Regions from separate parts of the Homo sapiens genome. Here region 1 is linked to region 2. Evidence: fine-mapped expression QTL. A gene starts in region 2. The other region holds a variant in brackets. All regions are shown on one strand. Distances are from middle to middle.

Evidence for each region.
Region 1: its variant is fine-mapped to the expression of KDM3A in whole blood (INTERVAL, PIP 0.92).

What each region holds. Positions count from the first base shown.
Region 1 is chr2:86,610,638-86,618,637 of GRCh38, forward strand. All of the region lies in intron 3 of RNF103-CHMP3 (RNF103-CHMP3 readthrough), which reads right to left. It overlaps RNF103 (ring finger protein 103), which reads right to left. Exons shown (of 4, transcript NM_005667.4): 3 at 1,522-1,637. It overlaps CHMP3-AS1 (CHMP3 and RNF103 antisense RNA 1), which reads left to right. Exons shown (of 6, transcript NR_183901.1): 6 at 6,539-6,812. Among named protein-coding and RNA genes, the nearest start is that of RNF103, 9.2 kb to the right of the region's middle. RefSeq lists a silencer at 6,655-6,704. The variant A/C (reference allele first, on the strand shown) is at 4,119.
Region 2 is chr2:86,437,514-86,449,061 of GRCh38, forward strand. It overlaps KDM3A (lysine demethylase 3A), which reads left to right and starts at 3,858. Exons shown (of 26, transcript NM_018433.6): 1 at 3,858-3,931; 2 at 4,505-4,720. The coding sequence starts at 4,535. RefSeq lists enhancers at 2,927-3,470, 3,292-3,491, 3,572-3,651, 4,642-4,701 and silencers at 3,782-4,171, 4,392-4,441.

The DNA of each region.
Region 1 (8,000 bases), 170 kb after region 2:
ATAATGTTTGAAATGTATTATTTAGTTCCACTGATTTTTAAAAAATACATTGGGTATTTTAAAAGAAAATAGTGATATGAATACTGACTTTTGGCATAACTAAAAAAATCAAAATATCAGCATTATCATTTGTTCTAGTATTGTAAAAATCAGTGAGGAAGAAAAAGACCTTTCACTTTGACTCTATTTGGAAATGATGGAATCAGATCAAATCCTAAGTCTTTGGTAAATGACGAATGGAGATCAGAATGATTTCCTTTTCAAAAGAACATTAAGACTTAAGCTATCTCAGACATTTCAACAAAAGACATTGGGATGTGACTAAGATTCTGTGGTTACCAGCCTGGGCAACATAGCAAGACTCCATCTCTACAAAAAAAAAAAAAAAATTAGCCAGGTGTGGTGATGCATGCATGTAGTCCCAGCTACTTGGAATGCTGAGGTGGGAAGATCACTTGAGCCCATCCATCAGCTGGAGGTTGCAGTGAGCTATGATCACACCACTGCACTACAGCCTGAGTCACAGAGCCAAATCCTGTCTCAAAAAAAAAAAAAATCAGAAAAAAAGACTTTGTGGTGAAGATGAGCATGACAGCTTTGCAGGTAGATAAGGAGACTAAATGTGAGTTAAGAGATACAGGAACTTCCCTCCTATTCCCAACTCTTAGAGGAACTCTACCATCCATCTCACCCTATATTACTAGTGGGCAAAACAAGGGTTCTAAGCAGAAGAGAAGTAAATGTAAGGCTAAGGAAAGGAGGTATAGTAATGGTTTAGGAGAGTTTTCTACAATCAATGAATGAGACTAAGTTATAACTTGGTAGCAAGAGAAATGGAAAAAAAGGCATTTCAAAGAAGAAATAATGGAATAATAAAACAAGAAATAATGTGACAGACTGAATACTGGAAATGATGACAAAAAAACAAAACATAAACAAAAACACCTCTGAGGATTCTTATTTGAGAAAATGGGGGGGAAAACCGGCGAAGGACAGAAAAAAGAAAGGTAGAAGGATACATGGATGATTAAAGAAAAAGAGGATGAATCTGATTTCAGATACTAGGTTTCAGGGAAAAGAATATATCTAGGGATAGTTGCAGAGCAAATGGAAATAAGCAAAGAAATGCAAACTAGAGGTCAGAATGATAGAAGATTTATATCAGCACAGAGGTGTCACCTAAAGCCATGAATGTGCTGAGATCTCTTTGGAAAAGAAAGGTGAAATGAAAAGGACTAAAGACACAATCTTAAGAGATATCTTCAATAGAAAAAACACAGAAGAGCCAGAGAAAGGGACGGGGAGAGAGAGGGAGATAGAGGAGACAGAGAGAGATCTTAGAGTGAAAGTCATTAGCTGCCAGTTTATCAAAAACCATTAATCAAGCACCTATGTAACTAAGAGTGTGCTACACATTATAATAAGCTTTCAGTTCAAGCAGGCTTCTAGTATCATTGCCCTTTTTAAATAAGAAAGATCCTGGTCAGGACTCAAATTCTAAGAATTGCCTAATCAACTTACCTGGGATCACTGGAACAGTTAAATGTGCCTGTACGTATTCCAAATCTTGACACCTTTTTAACCATTTTCTCCCAGTGAATTTTGCCCACCAAGGGACTTCTGTCATTTGCTATGACCTATTCCCAAAAATAGAGAAAAAGAAACTTGAATTACCTAAAATGGAGTCAAGCCAACCGTTTACATCAACAATATAATTTCACTTAAAAAAAAAGATATTCTGTTCCCAGTTCTTGTTTACTGTATCATCACATTATCATTACAATTCTTATAGAAGGAGCAACTATCCAATAGGAAAAAGACTTGAAACACTGAAACGTAAATTAAACTCTCCCACACTCTGTGGCAGTTACAAAGAGAGGGAGGGAGTCAAAACTGTATTAAAAGGCTAGCCACATTCTCCACCATGTGGCCTCTTCTCTCTAATTAAGTTACACAGGAAGAAAATGGCCCTTGGAATAATTTCTCTTTGCTCTGAAAAGAAAATTTTAAACAATAATCCAAATAGAGCTTACTAAAAATTATCACATGTAGGTTCAACAAGTTCAAATTTCACTTTTTAAAAAGTATAATTATGGAGCCAAGAGTCAAACACATGTTTTCTATTAAAGGGTGCTTTGACTAAATCAATAAATACTACTAGTTCTATGGCTTTTTGCTTAATCATGAACGGCTCTAACATACAATAAGAATTACCATTCTTCTTATTCATTCTTTAATGTAATGAATTTTACATTATTGAACTTGTACTTCAAATTTGCAAGAGCTTTCAAACACAATTAGGATTAGGAAAAGCAAAAGATTCTTAAGAAAAGAAAAAGAGGCCAGGTGTGGTGGCTCACGCCTGTAATCCCAACATGTTGGGAGGCCGAGGCAGATGCATCACTTGAGTCGAAGAGTTCAAGACCAGCCTGGCCAACATGGCAAAACCCCGTCTCTACTAGAAATACAAAAATTAGCCAGGCATGGTGGCAGGCACCTATAGTCCCAGCTGCTCAGAAGGCTGAAGCATGAGAATCACTTGAACCTGTGAGGTGGAGGTTGCAGTGAGTAGAGGTTGCACCACTGCAATCCAGCCTGGGTGACAGAGCAAGACCTTCAAAATATGTCAAGACTTCTCTTATAAGTGTCAGCCTTTCTAATCATTACCACCTTTTCCCTTTATCTCCTAATCTTCCTGCCTTTAATGAAGGCAGAATTTCAATGCAGATACCAGTAAAAACCAAAAAACATTAAAAACAAGACCATAAAAATAACTAAATGGGAAGTTAAAGGAAAGCCAAAAATGTCTAAAGTCATCATGAAACCATCTGTTTAAGTCCAGGGTATATAGGCCAAGTTTATTTTCATAAATGTTATATTTCTGATACTATACAATTCAAAATTACAACATAATACTCTGGGGGCCTCTACTCTTTCTGGGAGGAAGGACCATTTTCACACTCACAAAGCCTCCAGGAAGTGAAGTTGCAGGTGGGTGTGTAAAATGAGTGCTGACAGTCAACTCCTTGGGAGACGCAAGAGGTGGTGCAGCCACCTCATCTGTGGCCTCTGTGCTAGAACGTCTAACAAATGTCAGAGGGCAGCAGAAGAAACAGCACATTGTGATGACAAGTGACTTGAAGTTCACTTTATGTGCCAAATAACCTCTGTGACACTCCACTACCATCCTCATACTTACCGAGACACACGTGCATACATAACATCTTATCACATAAGTTTGAAGCTTAATGAATACATATACACAATTTAGGGCATTAAGCAAATGGTTTTGATATTACATTTTTTTTTAAGGGACAGGGTCTCACTCTGTTCCCCAGGCTGAAGTGCAATGGCTCAATCATGGCTCACTGCAGCCTCAAATACCTGGCCTCAGGGTTCCTTCTGCCTCGGCCTCCCAAGTGTTGGAATTACAGGCATGAACCACTGCACCCAACCATGGTTTTGATAGTACTTTTTAATGAAAATAAGTGGTCTTATTGAGGCAGATACAATTTATTCAAATACTCAGACAGCTGAAGTAACCAGGAAGAAGGCAATCTGGGGACATGCACTTAATAGGTGAAAGCTCTTTTGAAGGATGCTCACACGTTTCCCTACCCAGTAAGTCCCTAGCTTTACATTTTTCTCTGGTCCAAAAGTACTTTATAAGTTTTACCTAGAAGGCCAGGTACAGTGGCTCATGCCTTTAATCCCAGCACTTTTGGAGGCTGAGGCTGGTGGATCATTTGAGGTCAGGAGTTCAAGACCAGCCTGGCCAACATGGCGAAACCCCGCCTCTATTAAAAAAAACAAAAATTTGCCGGGCGTGGTGGTGCACACCTGTAATCCTAGCTACTTGGGAGGCTGAGGCAGCAGAATCGCTTGAACCTGGGAAGCAGAGGTTGCAGTGAGCCGAGATTATGCCACTGCACTCCAGCCTGGGTAACAGAGCAAGACTCCATCTCAAAAAAAAGAGAGAAAAAAAAGTTGTACCTAGAAAATTAGGAAGATCAAGCAAAGCAGGCGCCTATTGCCTCTTGTTCTTTATTTTATTTTATTTTTATTGCTACCACTCAAGAGTCAATCTGGTAGTTCTTTTGGTCAAATAATCAAAGACA[A/C]GTTTAACTTATTTTTCAGATTCCTTAGGAAGATTAAGAAGTATCTGTGCAATCATACTACCATACTCTCTACTCTTTGCCCTCTTTTAAAAATAACTCACTTTTCAGGCATTATCCCATTTCTTGATCAAGGTTGCAAATAACCCAAACATTTCAGGTCTGTGTGCAGAATGACACTGCTCCAAGGAGTTTAGAGGTTGCCTCGCCAGTGTAAATATTTAGTTCCTAAGTCTGGAGGCATCTTTCAGTGAAGATCTTGTTCACTGCACAGGTATCTTTGAGACATGTGATAAGAGCTCCAATGTTAGGAAAAGAAGGAGGAATGAGAGGGGTTCTTCCCAGGTACCTCTTGGTTATAGCAGAGATAGTAGAAGTGAGTGAAAAGAGTTGGGAACATACCTGGGGCAGGTACAAGACAATGTTCAATGCCAGGGCCTTATTTATTCAGCAACGTGTTCTAGCATTTGGTTTTGAAGAGTTTAAGGATCCCTGACTGACAGAGCTACACAAAAATGAAAAATCTTGTAGGCATTGCATGAAAGCATTTTATATTACTTTATAGTTATATTTATGCAATTAAAAATGTGTCCAATGTCCTACATAGTTATATAATTCAACTGAAGGTTTAGCATAAATTAAATTTGGTGGAGTTTAAATTAACCAACCACTATAAAAATGCTAATATTTTCACAAAATAACTCATCTGGTTGAGTCACACAGCACAACAAAATATTCTCAGCCTAATATATATATATACATATGCCTTATATATATATATATATAATATATATACACACACACACTATGTCATACCAGTAAGAGTCCCCAATTTATAGCTCATATCCTAGAAGGATGCATGATGATTCTGAGTGGCATTCATATGGCTGGTCTCATTAAAAGGGGAGACATTTTCCTCAGCAGCTCAGGAAGGAACACTGTATGTGGGGAACATTTTTAAAGACTACAAAAAAACTGGACAAAGTACAGCTTGAGTTCCAGGTGTGGAACAGACCTGGCAATACAGGCTAGAAGTGAAGCAATCTTTCCATTCCCTTTCCCAGGGTATCTGCCTCTGGCATCCCCACACTTGCTCACCACTGTAGTCCCTGCAGCTAATACAGTGCCCAACTCATATGGGTGCTCAATAAGTATTTATGTCAAACCAAACAATTTCAGCTTCTTACAGTTTAATAACTCATTCTTCTAGTTCTGATTACACAGAGTCTCTAAAGGAAACTCTTAAGCTTTTGATTTCTGTTATAATCAAAGTCCCTTCCCCAGCAACCTGTACCAAGATGTTTTCTGGACAAACAGTGGCATAAATGGTACCCTGCTAAGCAACTGCATATTAATGTTCTTGACCTCAGTCAGACATAAAGATGTTTAATTCAGTGCATTTTAAAATGCCCATTATTTAGAGGTGAGGTTTATTACTGATCAAACCATGTGGCATACCCCTTTTAATACTGTTAATCTCCATACAACGACATCCAGGTTTAGTTAAGTAACATAACTCCCTGGAACAATGAGAGTATTGTGCTATGATATTTTCTGCATTCTCAGTATTTCATTATAATAGGGAGTCTCTACTTTCAAAATCATAAGCCAACCTAGTATATACATGCAAACTATATAAAACCATTAAGAGTAAGGACAAGTGATTGACAAAAAACAGTGGTCTTTTAATTTTTTTGTATTCTTACATAGAATTTATAAAATTTTTTACCAATACAAAATATAAGATAAAGTGGCTTGCTATGTGCTTCACCTCCATAGCAGTATCAAGAAAGAAATACGTAATTTAGAATCTCCTCGAACAAAACTTTTGTCTAGGAGCAAAGATAAACAAGTTTAAAATCAGCTATTAACTCTTGTCAGCCAAACAGGAAATATATTGATGTAATACTTCAGTAAATATTGACCCAAAGCTTTATTTTAAATCATATGATGCTTCTCACTGCTACCTCAATTCCAGTGACTTTAAATTCCATATGATGTAACACAGCCAGTAGGGAACAAATATGTCCTTCTTTGAACTATGACAAAAGTCAAAACGGAGAAACAGAAATGTTAGGAGGAGGATAAATCCATAAAACCCATAAATTATGCTAACTTCTCCACTTCAGAAGCCTATCCACTGTGCCATCTGCCTCTCTGACCAAGGGTCTTTTGAAAGAAAAGTAACCATCTTCTATTTGTAATGCTATGAAGACTGGGGCCAAAGAATCCACAAAACTGTTAAATGAATAGCTAATGAAAGATATGAGCTTGGGTTAGGGACAAAGGAGAAAAACAATGTTAGGAATAACTTAGAAAAAAGAGCACTTGGTTCTACATGTATTTCATAGTGTGTCATTGGTAAAGATGTCATATGTATGTTGCTACCTTGAAAACTAAAATAAATTCTGTTCACATTACAGAGACTATACGTAACATGGACCTGGAAAAGCTTAAAAATATGAAGAGGATTGAACTGGCTGCCATCTGTGCATCTTCATTTATGAAAACACTCCTCATAGACTTAAAACAAATGACAGAGAACAAATTAGTCAGCTTCTTCTAAAATACAGTGGTCTCCCCTTACCCTCAGTTTCACTTTCTGCAGTCAACTGCAGTCCGAAAATACTACATACAATTAGATATTCGGAGAGAGAGACACCACATTTACATAAATGTTATTTCAGTATACTGTTATAATTGTTCTATTTTTATTAGTTGTTGTTGTTACTGTGCCTAACTTACACATTAAACTTTATCACAGGTATGTATGTATAGGAAAAAACATAGACTATATAGGATTTGGTACTATCCACGGTTTCAGGCATCCACTGGGGGTCTTGGAACGCATCCCCCTCAGATAAGGGGGGACTACTGTAAACAGAAAATAACAACAATTCAAATTGTTAAAAACAATTCTTGAAAGTTATCCTTTACAATAGATTAATATATATGATCTGAGCTGAAAGAATGGCAAGCAATGGAGACAATATTTCTCTTCTGTTTCTAGTAGATATTTTCAATTTTAAGCATAGTTTTAAAAAGTACAACCCTCTTTTAAGGGCTTAAACCAAGGTGGCTGTGCTGATTGGCTTAGCTGGCTAGTTCACAGTGCCAAGGACAGGGTTTCAATCTCATTCTTCTCAGTTGTCCTGCCAGAGATTGTTCTTTCAGACCAGGCCAGCCATTTGACAGATGTAAGCCACTGGCCTCAAGGAACACAAGCCAGACAGTGGTGGTCAATGCAAACCTTGAGCATCACTGGAAAAATTAAGCAGGTGTCCTACTGCATTATTTCCATACATAGAAAAACCACAGAAATACATTCTATTTTTAAAGAGTTGTTTTTCAACTATTAATACCTATAAGGTTTAAAAATATTTTCAGAGAAAAAAAATTTAGCAACTAGAATTTATAATGCTACCATTTACTATCATTATTTGTCCTTCACTTCATTTGTCACCTTACCAGAGAATTCCTTGCCACTCTCATCTCCTTAATCTGCTTATTTTTCTTCTTACTACTTTCCACTAACTGATGTTATATTAAATATTTATTTATTTGGTGTCTGCCTCTCCCAACTAGAATGTGAGCTGCCTGACAGAGCAAGGCCTTAGCTTGGTGTGTGTTTCTGGTATATCTTCAGGGCCCAGAACAGGGCCTGGCACACCCACAACTGAATAAACTTTTGATGAATTCTGTCACATATTTATTACAGGAGCTTAATTCATGGATATCTTTAACAGGACATCAAAAACAGTAGATCATTTACAAGCCAAGAACATACTGCTAACTATTGAACCAGAATGTATTTGTTGTCTATAGGCAGCAGCCTATATAGCAAAAGAACTCAAGACTTTTGACATAGCCCTTCCAAGTTTCAAA
Region 2 (11,548 bases):
AGAAATATGTCGATCACAAACTAATTTTTAATATACACTGGGTCTGTTTCTTTGTTCTCTTCATTACTTATATATTTATGTCTTGATGTTTTTATTTGTTGTTTTGTTAGAGGAGAAATGACATATTTATCAGATCATATCAAGAGACAGAATTTTTCATCTTCTTTATACATGTCAGCAAAGTCTAATTTTCTTCATATAGGTTGTGTTCATTTCATGTATTAATTTTTAGGGATTACATGTTTTATTATCATTAATGGTTTTTATTTTTCTACTGTATGTTCTAATTGATGCTTGCTAAGGAATAGGAATTCTTTTGATTTTCGTTTGTTGATCTTTTATTGCATTATCTTTTTGATTCTTGTTTTAATTCTAATAATTTGTCACTGATGCTTTTGATTTATCTACAAATGTTTTGGGCTTTTTCTTCCATTCCAATGTTTACATTGTATTATTTTTCTTGTCTTATTACATTAGCAATTAACCTCTATTGTAACTTGAATAGTAATGACAGCATTGGGCATCCTTATCTTGCTCCTGACTTTATTGGGAATTTTTCTAAAATTTCACAATTAAGTACAATGTTTAAGTATATTTCTGGTAGATATCCTTTATAGAGTTATAAAATTTTCTTTTCTTGATAGTTTGCTAAGAGTTTTTATAATGAATGAAAATGAAGTATATAAAATTTTTGGTGTATCTATTGAGATAATCATATGTATTTTCTCCTTTAATTTGTTAATGTAGCAGATTCCATTAATGAGAGTTAAAAATTAAATTTTAAAAGTAACATGTGAGTACATTTACCTTATAAAATGAGAGAATTACAGGGAGTGGGGAGATTGGGTAGATGTTGGTCAAAGGACACAAAATTTCAGTTAGACAGGAGGAATAAGTTCAAATGATCTAATGTACATCATGGTGACTACAGTTAATGACAATATATTGTATATTTGAAAATTGCTAAGAGTGGATTTTAAGTGTTCTCACCACACAAAAAAAGATGAGTATGTGAGGGAATGCATATGTAAAATAATTTGATATAGCCATTCCACAATGTATATCTATACCAAAACATCATATTGTACACCATATAGTTTTACCTGTCAATTAAAAATAAGGTGATAAAAATGTAAATACAAAAAAAGTGTATTTATAAAAAATTAGAATTACAAATAATATGTGTTGTCTTTGACTAATACCCCTAATTCTAGTGTGCACCCCCTAATACCAGTAACCATTACTGTAAGTTTTAATAACCATATTTAACAGAACATATATACTGTTGTTTTTGTATGTGTATTTTGAAATAGTACCAAATGCAAATTTCTTTTTCATTCATAATGTATTTTGGTAACTATTTTTATTGGAACATCTAGCTGCTTTGACTCCTTTACAAATCCTCTACAACTTTCCAATATATGCATTACATTCCATTTATTGTTAATAATTTTATTTATTCCTTCTCCAACTGGAGTACACTTAGGTTATTTGCAGATGTTTTTTCGTTCATATGTGTGTGGGTGTTTTTCTGTGGTACGTAACTTATATTCCTAGGTTTTTAGAAAGTTTAAAAACATTTTTTAAAAATTATGGGTGGTATTGAATATAAGTGTACACTTATAATCTTCTTAGTTTTCTATGTAATTTAAAAATACTCTTAAGATCACAAGTGTTCAATGTGACTGCATGCTCTATTTAGCCCTAAGGTGAATATACGATTTTTCTTTTTTAACCTGTCATGGTGAATTTTAGTAATTTTCTAATCTTGAAGTATCTTTGCATTCATATAACACTAATTAATCATATCAATTACCTAAAAAAAATGCTGCTGGATTTAATTTGCTGGTATTTTATAAAAGAATTTCCCATCTATGTTCCTAAGTATAATTGAACCATAGTTTTTCTTTCTTATACTCGCCCAGTTCAGAATTTGTGAAACGGTTTTATAACTTTTATAAAATGCATTGGATATCTTTCCATCTTTTCTAAGCTCTGAAATAATGAATTCAACATAGAAAGTATATGTTCCTTCAGGTTCAATAGAATTTTTCCCTTGAGTTGTTTTTCAAATTAATATTTAATTACATAATCTAAGTTCTCCATATCTTCCCTTATATTTTACATTTGAGTTGCATATTTCTGAGATATTTATGTCTTCTACTCTGAAAACAAATTGTCAAATTTGTAAAATTTCTCATCGTTCATAGCGTCACCTTAGGATAGGCCATGTTTTTAGATTCATAACAGTTCAGGAGACCATACTGTCTTCATGGACTTTATCTTTAATATAAAATCCTTTCTCTTTTGATACTTTTAATTGTATTAATATTGCTATACTGCTTTCATTTGGCTACCATTTGATTAAATATTTTAGCCCAGTATTTTCAAGCTTCCTGTTTTGTAAGCATTTGCTTATGGTCAATTTATAGCTGGATTGTCCTTTTATTCCCAACTGTCTTTTAAAACTTGTGAGTGAAATTAACCCATTTACATTTATTGTAAATACTGATGTTTGGACTTTTCACATGAAAAACATTTTTACCATATGTTCTGGTTTCTTTTGCTTATCTCGTTCCCATTTCTGCCTTCTTTCAGCTGGATAGGTTTTTTCTTCTCATTTAGCAGCCCCCTTCCTTTAAATGGTCTACAGATTATAAATCCAATTTAATTCTTGTTACTAACTTTAAAAACTTAAAATCACATTCAGAATATGTATATTGAAAATCAACATCCAGAGTTGATTTGCATCTATAATCCCTTATATGTTTCCAAACATTCTCTGATTATACGTTTCCACGCTTGTAAAATGGGAGGCATGAGTTCTTCTTAAGGATTAAATGTGATGTAATGTCAAACACTAGCCTTTATGAACATATCTTCAATTTCTTCATTCCATTTCTTTTTCATTCAATCAAAATACTTCAGGTCCAGAGCACACAATCACCTCTAAACTCCTTTGTCCTTCAAAGTCACCTTCTCTTTCATCTCTTCCATCATTCATTATGGCCTTCAACTACTTTAAATTTCTTTGTAAGTATCTGAATACCTTCTCAATCCCACTTTGGAGAAAAAAAAATCTCATTATACATTGTATTTAAAGGTCTCTTTTGCTCTAAATTTAATGAACGTCATTATCCAGTAACTCCACGCCTTTCTTCATTTATCCTTCAAAATGGCGGACTTTAGACGTTCCACGATCAGTACCACGTGCGCCTGCGCCTCCCGCAGCCATTTCGCCCAGCAGCCTAAGCTCGGCGAGGCGCCTGCGCACGAGCCTCCAGAGCACTATCGCTCCTCCCTCTAGCTGAGTACGCCTGAAACCGCACGTTCTCTTCCCTGCCCTCCCCCGCTAACCCTGCACCGCCCTCACCCTTTCCTGTGAGATTCTTCCGCCAAGTGGAAGGCTCATCTTCGGTCGACAGCCTACGCGGTTGAAGAACAATCCAGTAGGCACTTATAGCTCAGGGTCTCGCCATTCAGTCTTATCTATGCGCCACAGCAATTTTCCTCCGGGCCCCAAAGTTGATAACCGATTTCGCGGGACTTTTTTTTTGCATACTGTGAGGCAACAAATGGAAAGAATAGGCCTATGGCGGAGGGATCACTCGCTTATTCTCTGTGTACTTTAACCTAATGGGGGTCGCCCGGGAGTCGGAAGGGGGAGGGGAAAGGGAGGAGGCAGCCAAGGAATTGTTTTTTTCTCTGGCCCCGCCCTCGCCCGGGGGGCCAATGGTGATGATCTGTTTCCCCCGGAGCCTCGCCCAGCTCCTGTGTTTCAGCCAATGAGCGGCGGAAGCGGCTCCGAGGGGGGCGGGTCCGGGAGGCTGTGCGTGTCTTGTGAGAGCTCTTGAACCAAGTCAGCGCTGGAGTCGGCTAGGCGGCTGGAAACGGCGGCTGCCGCCGGTGACTCAGGGAGGCGGGAGGCGGGGTAAGAGCGCCGCGGCCTCGGCTGCGGGGAGAGGGGAGAGAAAGGTGAAAGCGCCGAGCGCGCGGCCCCGTCGCCCGTTGGCAGCGGCGCAGGCCCGGGAGACGGGCGCCCGGGGTTCGGGGCCGGGGAGCTGGGCGCCGGGGCGGGGCGGCGGGGCAAGTGCGGAATCGCGGGCTCGCCCACCCTCCCCCGTGGGGCCGCCCGGGGCGGGGACCCAGCCGCCCGGGACCGGCTCTCTGCACCAGGGGCCTTTTCTTTTCGGGGCTGGGGGCTGAGCACTTTCAAATCCACTCGAGCCGCAGATAATTTTTCCCTCACTCCCTCTGCGGTTGCGTTTGAGCTGTTAGAAAAGCCAAACTTGGGAGAGCGAGGGTCACGCGGCGCTGGGGCCCGGGTGTGTGGCGGGGGAGGGCGGCGGGGGGCGGGAGGGCGCAGGAGGGGGGCTCGGTGCGGGTCCGCCCGGGGCCGCGTCCTCGCGCGGGTTCGGCGCCCTCCGCCCGCCCTCCCTGCTGTCTCCGCCCGGCCCCCTCCCACCGGCCGCCCCCGTCGCATTTTGTTTTTGTGTTTTTGCAGGGAGGAGCTCTTCCTGCAGGCGTGGAAACCATGGTGCTCACGCTCGGAGAAAGTTGGCCGGTATTGGTGGGGAGGAGGTTTCTCAGTCTGTCCGCAGCCGACGGCAGCGATGGCAGCCACGACAGCTGGGACGTGGAGCGCGTCGCCGAGTGGCCCTGGCTCTCCGGGACCATTCGAGCTGTTTCCCACACCGACGTTACCAAGAAGGATCTGAAGGTACAGGCGGCTCCGGGCCTCTGCCACCGGACGTTTCGCAGTTACCGTGGTAACGCGACCATCGGTTCCCTCCTTCCGTTTTCTGAAAACGGAGACCAGAAAGTTGGCATATGATCTGAAGGTGCAGGAAGCTAGATCTTGAAAGTCTTTGGAATGGTTGTATAGAGCCGAGTTGTGTTTGGCCCACAGCTCCTGGCTGCCTGGCTTTAATAATGGGCTTAGGGTTGTTCAGACACGCTTCATTAATGCCGGTGCTGTGTCCCACCAGGACTGTCTCATCTTTACTGCAGAGGAGGAGGAGTATTTTTGTTAGCGTTAGGTAGGGCCTGTAAGTGACGTTTGGAGTCATTAAGAATTGAAGGTTAGTGCTTGGAAGTACTTTCAGCTGGTTTTGTTTGTTTGTTCCTGTTAATTTATTCACTCAACTTTTAAAAAAACTTTCAGACTTGTTAAAAATGAAGTGAGTGTAGAGGGAGGAGCTTAAGTTCTGTTTGGCGTATTAGGATGGGTGTTTGTCCGTATATGGTGGGTCAGGGCAGGAGTGGGTTCCTGGTTGTCTGTGATGAGCCGGTGGGTGGGTGTGGGATATGACCATATATGGAGGGATGGGGTGGAGCTGTCCCATATATGGCATATTGGAGGACTGGCTTAGAAATACTGCACTTGGACGCATGAGGGGAGGGAGAGAATTGGGAACAAGTGCGGCCAGTGATTTTTTTTTAAATCATTATGACACTCAGAACCTTTTTCTGTTAGATCTTTTCAAAGACAGATGAATTCTGATTGTGCTCCCTAATAGAAGTATTGATGTGAAAGGATTGTCTGGGAACAAGCAGTGAGGAAGCCATTGTACCAACAAAGACTCCTTTGTGCGAAAATAACTGAAAAAAGGTTCCTAACAAAGACTCCAAAGTGGTGATAACTTGAAGGAAGCTTGTCAGAACAGAAGATATTTCCACCCTGCCTAGTAGATGTGTTTCAGAATCTTCACTTGGCCATCATCTTTGCTTTTTCTTAAACTATGTTCAAATAAAGGCAGCAAGTTTTAGCATTGGCAGTTGATTATATGTTGATTTCTGAAACACTGTTCATTTGAACACTTTCAGGGTGACAGTGTATGCCCAAACTGGTATTTATCTGCAAAGAGTTGTAGGAAAGGGGTATGCTGTTAGGCATGTTTTAAAGCTTCAGTGTTGTGCCTTGTCTCTTGTTGAAAAGGAGGAGTGACCGAAGAGCATTTAACCATGTGGCAAGCACTTCACAACTATGATCTCGTTTAATCCTTACAGCAGTTCTTGGGGGTAGGTACTAATATTGCCCCCATTTTATGGATGAAACTACTGTGCCTGAGGGACGTTAAGCATCTTGCCAAGGACACATACGTAGGAATTGACATAGCCTGTATTCTGTCAAACCCAGGAAGTTTTACTCCAGAAGCTGCCCTCTTAACCATCAGGCCAGTGATCAAGAGCTATGCCACAGCAGAGCTCCTGTCATAGGCTGTGAGGTTTGGTTTTTTCCTGCATTCGGCTCATTCTCCTGCCAAATCAGGTTTTGATGTTTATAGAGATAATATATTGTGGTGCAAGAATGGCCAACCTTTTTGCTTTGGGCTTATAACCTTTCTGTAAGCTGGGCTTTGTGTACTAGATTTCAGTCGTGCTTGTTGTGGTTTATTTCGCCTGCCAAATAAAATTTTCTCTAGTGCATTTGTTTTTATGTGATTTGAATGGAAACAAGATTTTATTTAAACTTTCCAGTCTTTAGTTCTTTGGCAGATGTTGAGAGACTAGGCGTTCCCTTCCCTTCTGTAGCAGCAATTGAGGACCTGTTGGGTTAGGCAGGCAATCTAGGAGGAACTTCACATGTATATATTTTTTAAATCTCCTCCCTCCGCCCCCATCCTTTGAGGAGGTGGTGATATCTTCATTTTCAGAATGAGGAAATAGATTTAGGAAAAGGAATCTTGTCCAGATTTGCATAATTAGCTGCGGAGGGAGGCTGCGAATCCAGATTGGGCCCAGTGTCTTCTCCACTGCACTTTGGTGCCTAACCTGAAGACAACTGGGAATTCATGTCAAAAACAATTTTGGCTAGGTTGGATTTTTGCCTTACTTGTACACATCACAACTCAACCCTCATGTAAGATGCCAATCTTCTGTCTCTTTTCTAGTCATGATTTATCACTGCATTCCTTAGTTGAGTAGCAGATGTTAAGTTTGGGGGCCATGTTGCATTAAAAAAAACCAGGATTTTATTTTACCTTGATTTTAGAGTTGGGGGGTCTTGTTGCCCAGGCTGGTCTGGAACTCCTGGGCTCAAAACACCAAAACCAATTTGTGCTTGGTGAGATGGAGGCAGGAACCAAGTAACTAAGACCATGCTTACACTAGGGTTTAGGGGCATTAAGTTTTTGGGGGGTGAGATGGGGGTGGGGCGAGGGGCTGAGATGAATGTCAATAAATAACATTCAAGTAATATGTAACCATTCTTCTATTATTAGGACAAATACAAGTCTGTCTAGACTGGCTTGTTTAGATAGTTATGGATGATATTAATGAGGCCAAGGCTTGTTAACTTTGTTTCACCTAGAGAGACTTTATAACAAAACCACTTACTTAGATGACAAAAAGAGAATATGTCTAGTAGTTGGTTACAGAGAAGTTAAGGTGAAGACATAATAACAGTGGATAACTATGATTAAATGGTTACATCAGGATTTAGCAAAGAAAAAATAATCATTAAATGGATATTATGTGGCGATTACTTCATTTAATCCTCACAAATATCCTAGATGGTAAACTACATTTTTAGTGTCAAAAACTGAGGCTTAAAGAAGTTAAATAACTTGAGTTTGTCTCCAGACCTTAAACACTAGGCTTTAATATTCAGGTAGAGCGAGGTTAGAGCATTTTATTTTGCTAGCCTCTATATCCCTAGCACCGAGAACACTGCTTGGCATGTAGTGTGTGCTCAGCTATTTGAATGGATAAGTGAAGGAATCATAAAATTATTACCTCTCCTATGGAGAAACAGTTTAGAAAGAATCTACTGATGAGGCAGTAGCATTCTCTTCATCTGGAATAACAACAGATCTTAATTAGATGTGGCTATAAAGACTGCTTTAATCTTATTTTTATCCTGCTCTTTCTACTTGAGTATGAAATGAGTTGCTTCCTAGCTGATTTTGTTCACATAATTATGCGTGGTGGGAATGCCCTGCTTCCTTAACTTGTCCTTTTTTCTTTGAAGCCTACCTTTTTCTTGAGTCTAATGCCCTGCTTCCTTAACTTGTCCTTTTTTCTTTGAAGCCTACCTGTTTCTTGCGTCTAATGCCCCTTCTTAGTCCTTACAGGTGTCCTTAGCAGGCAATTAGTCCTTGCCATCTGTATGTACCATTTCCTGCTATTGTCAGCAATTTGGTGCCTTGACTAATGCCTAGCCTTTCATTTTTGCACACCATTGAAACTTTAATGTTAGTGCAATCTGCTGCCAGTCAAGCCATGTAAAATGAAAAAACTTCTAGCACGGTATAAAAACTGTTTACCCCTTTTAATTGAATGCTGGACCTTGGGATCTTCGACAAACATTTAGGCATAAGAAGACATAAGTGGAAGCACAAGGAATTAATTTCTTTGTGGAGTAGTGAATTAAGTGGTATCCTGCATTGTAGTGCAAGGCATAAAATAGACATGTAATTAAAAATTTGTCTAAAAACCATATCATTCTGTGCTCCTGCTTTTAAACTTGGAAACATTTTCATTGGTGTTTCTGATGGCCTTTATAATCATATAGTCAGGTGAGATGAGAGTATGGTAAGAGTGGGAGATTTTGATATTAGTTTATTAGATACAATATTAATTCATATATCAGAAAGATTTTCTGTTGGGGAAACATTGGCTTGAAAAATCTGAAATATCGAGCATTTGGTCAAGGTGTTTCATAGGTACTAATAAGGTACACATTTGCAAAATACCCATTAAAAGAAGAGCAGATTTCACAATTATAGGTAGTGAATCATAGTTGACTCTGGCCTTTGAAGCCACACAGTGTAAGTCACATCTCATTGTGGGCCAAAGGAGCATGGGTGAAATAACACAATTTAGAATAGAAACTAGCTGCATCTGTCAGCTTGCATGAGCTTGGTCAAGTCACTTTAGTTCTTACTGAATTTAAATGTCTTTTTAGGCCAGGCGCAGTGGCTCATGTCTGTAATCCCAATAATTTGGTAGGCCAAGACGGGTGGATCATCTGGTCAGGAGGTCAGGAGTTCAAGACCAACCTGGCCAACATGGTGAAACCCAGTCTCTACTAAAAATGCAAAAATTAGCCAGGTGTGGGTGGCACTCACCTGTAATCCCAGCTACTTGGGAGTCTGAGGCACGAGAATCACCTGCATCTGGGAGGCAGAGGATGCAGTGAGCTGAGATCGCGCCACTACACTCCAGCTTGGGCAACAGATTGAGACTCTGTCTCAAAAAATAAAATAAGTGTTTTTTTGTAGAAATGTCCACAGAAGAAGCTTTTTTGGGGGATGTCATTAAGTGTAAAACCTCAAACCTTAAGGCACAAATGAAAGATGCTTTGTTTTTTCTGGAAATGGGGTCTCACTCTGTCACCCAGGCTGAAGTGCAGTGGCACAATCATAGCTGACTGCAGCCTCAACTTCCTTGGCTCAAGCAATTCTCCCACCTCAGCCTCCTGAATATCTAGGACCACAGGTGGGCACCACCACTCCTGGTTAATTTTTGTATTTTTTGTAGAGACGAAGTTTCCCCACGTTGCCTTGGCTGGTTTAGAACTCCTGGACTCGAGTGATCCTCCTGTCTTGGCCTCCCAAAGTGCCGGGATTACAGGTGTGAGTCACCATGCCTGACTGACATATATGGTTTTGATAGGAAACTTTTGAACAATATTGAAGAAAGCTCACAACTTGTTGGTTTTCTTATATATTTTTTAAAGTCATCTTTTTCCAAACCAAAATAATGTGATTTTTGGCTAATACAGCATAATATTTGAAAGTCATAAACTTAAATTGTTTTTAAGGAGGTAAACTTTTTTTTTTTTTTTTCAAATCACTCAAAAATTGGGATATGGAAAGGGGCCCTGTCTGTCTTTTGGTTTAGGGTTATCTTAAGCTTTAGATAGTGATCTGGTAAGAACTGTGATGTTGCTTAAGTTTTGGGAAACCACTTAAGATCTTAATCCTTCTTAATTCTGCACTTTTTTTTTTTTTTGCTGAATAGATATTAGATAATTGTGTTGAAGATCCTCTTTCCCCTGCTCCTAACTTAATAAGTGATACCTTGATAAGATTTGAATTAACCATGGAGGTATTAAAACTACCTAGTTGTCTTGCCAGACACTTTACATACACTGTCTTTTAAAATATGCCTAACTATGCAATGAGAGGTGTCACTTTTTTCATTTTGAAAAACATTGAGAGAACTTAGATTTTCTAAGTGAGGGTTCTTAACCTGGGGTGCAAGTTAGTTGGTTTCCTTTGTAATCATAAGTATTTTATTTTATACATGTAAAATCATTCTAAGAGAGATTCAGTGTAGCTGGGAATTCAAGGTCTCTGAATCTGGATCTAGAATTTGTGTGTGCTCATTCCTCTTATACCACATTGCTGATAAATAAGAAAACTGTCTACCTAAAGCTTGGTTGGGTTTGAGGTTGATGTGAATATGGAGCAGAAAGACTAGCCAATTTAGGGGAGATGTCAGAGCATATGGATTCTGTGGCTAGGAAACAGAAAGGAAGATGGGCAGTCTCTGCCCACCTTTATGAAAGACCATTTGGTTGATTACAGTGATAGAAAACATATAACCAGGGAGAAACGTATGTGGGCCTTGCCACGTGGGTGTTCACATTTATTCTGATTTGGAAAGTATTCAGTAATAACTGCAAAGTTAAAAGCCTAAAATACCAAGAAGATATGTAGTTTCCTAGGTAAAGTCGCCTGGGAGGTTAGGGATGCATGTTTTGTTGGCTGAGAAGGGTAGGATAGATCTTAGATTTCATTTATTTTTATCCTGTAGACTGGAGAAGGTTTGGGATTGGGGCTAATGTGGGAATTTAGTGCCTTCTAAGCAGGTGAGAGAAACAAGATAGGAACCCAATGCAGAGGGAAATTTATTCATTAATCTATGCTAACAAGTATTTGAGTACCAATTAGATTCCATATACTAGTGATATACAGTTGTAAGCAAAAGCAGAGACAGACTTTGACCTATTAGAATTTAATTGTCAATCAGTTAACAAATAAATAATGCAAAGTGTGGATAAGAGCTAAGACGGAAAAGTACAAAACTTTGAGTACAGTTAGTATGGGGACCTCTCTTGGGAGAGAGAGGCACTTTGGTAAGGGAAGGTTTGTTTGAGGAAAGGATATATGAATTGTGCTCTGATAGATGAAGTTAACTAGTTAATAAACTGAAGGTTGAAAAGGGATGTATGAGTGATGTCTGTAAAATGATGAACAGATTTGATAGATGATAGATGTATTAACTAATTCCTGGAAACCAAAATGAGAGACCTCTTTAGTAAGAGGAGGAATTTTAAATCAAATAAAAACAGTGATTTTTACACTGAATATCGAGGGAGTTTATTGTCATTGGTAGAATACAAAAAGCATTGAAGAGGACCTAGAGTAAGTTAAGGGGTAGCATATTTATAATAGGTTAAGGAAGCTGGAGTGTTTCAATGCTTTTATATGACTTTGAGTTTTATGGTTTTGTAAACAATTCCTACTCATAGATCACTCCCAGAAGCCCACTTTTAGACTGAATTTTCTTAATGTCTTTAAATATGTATACAGGTTTT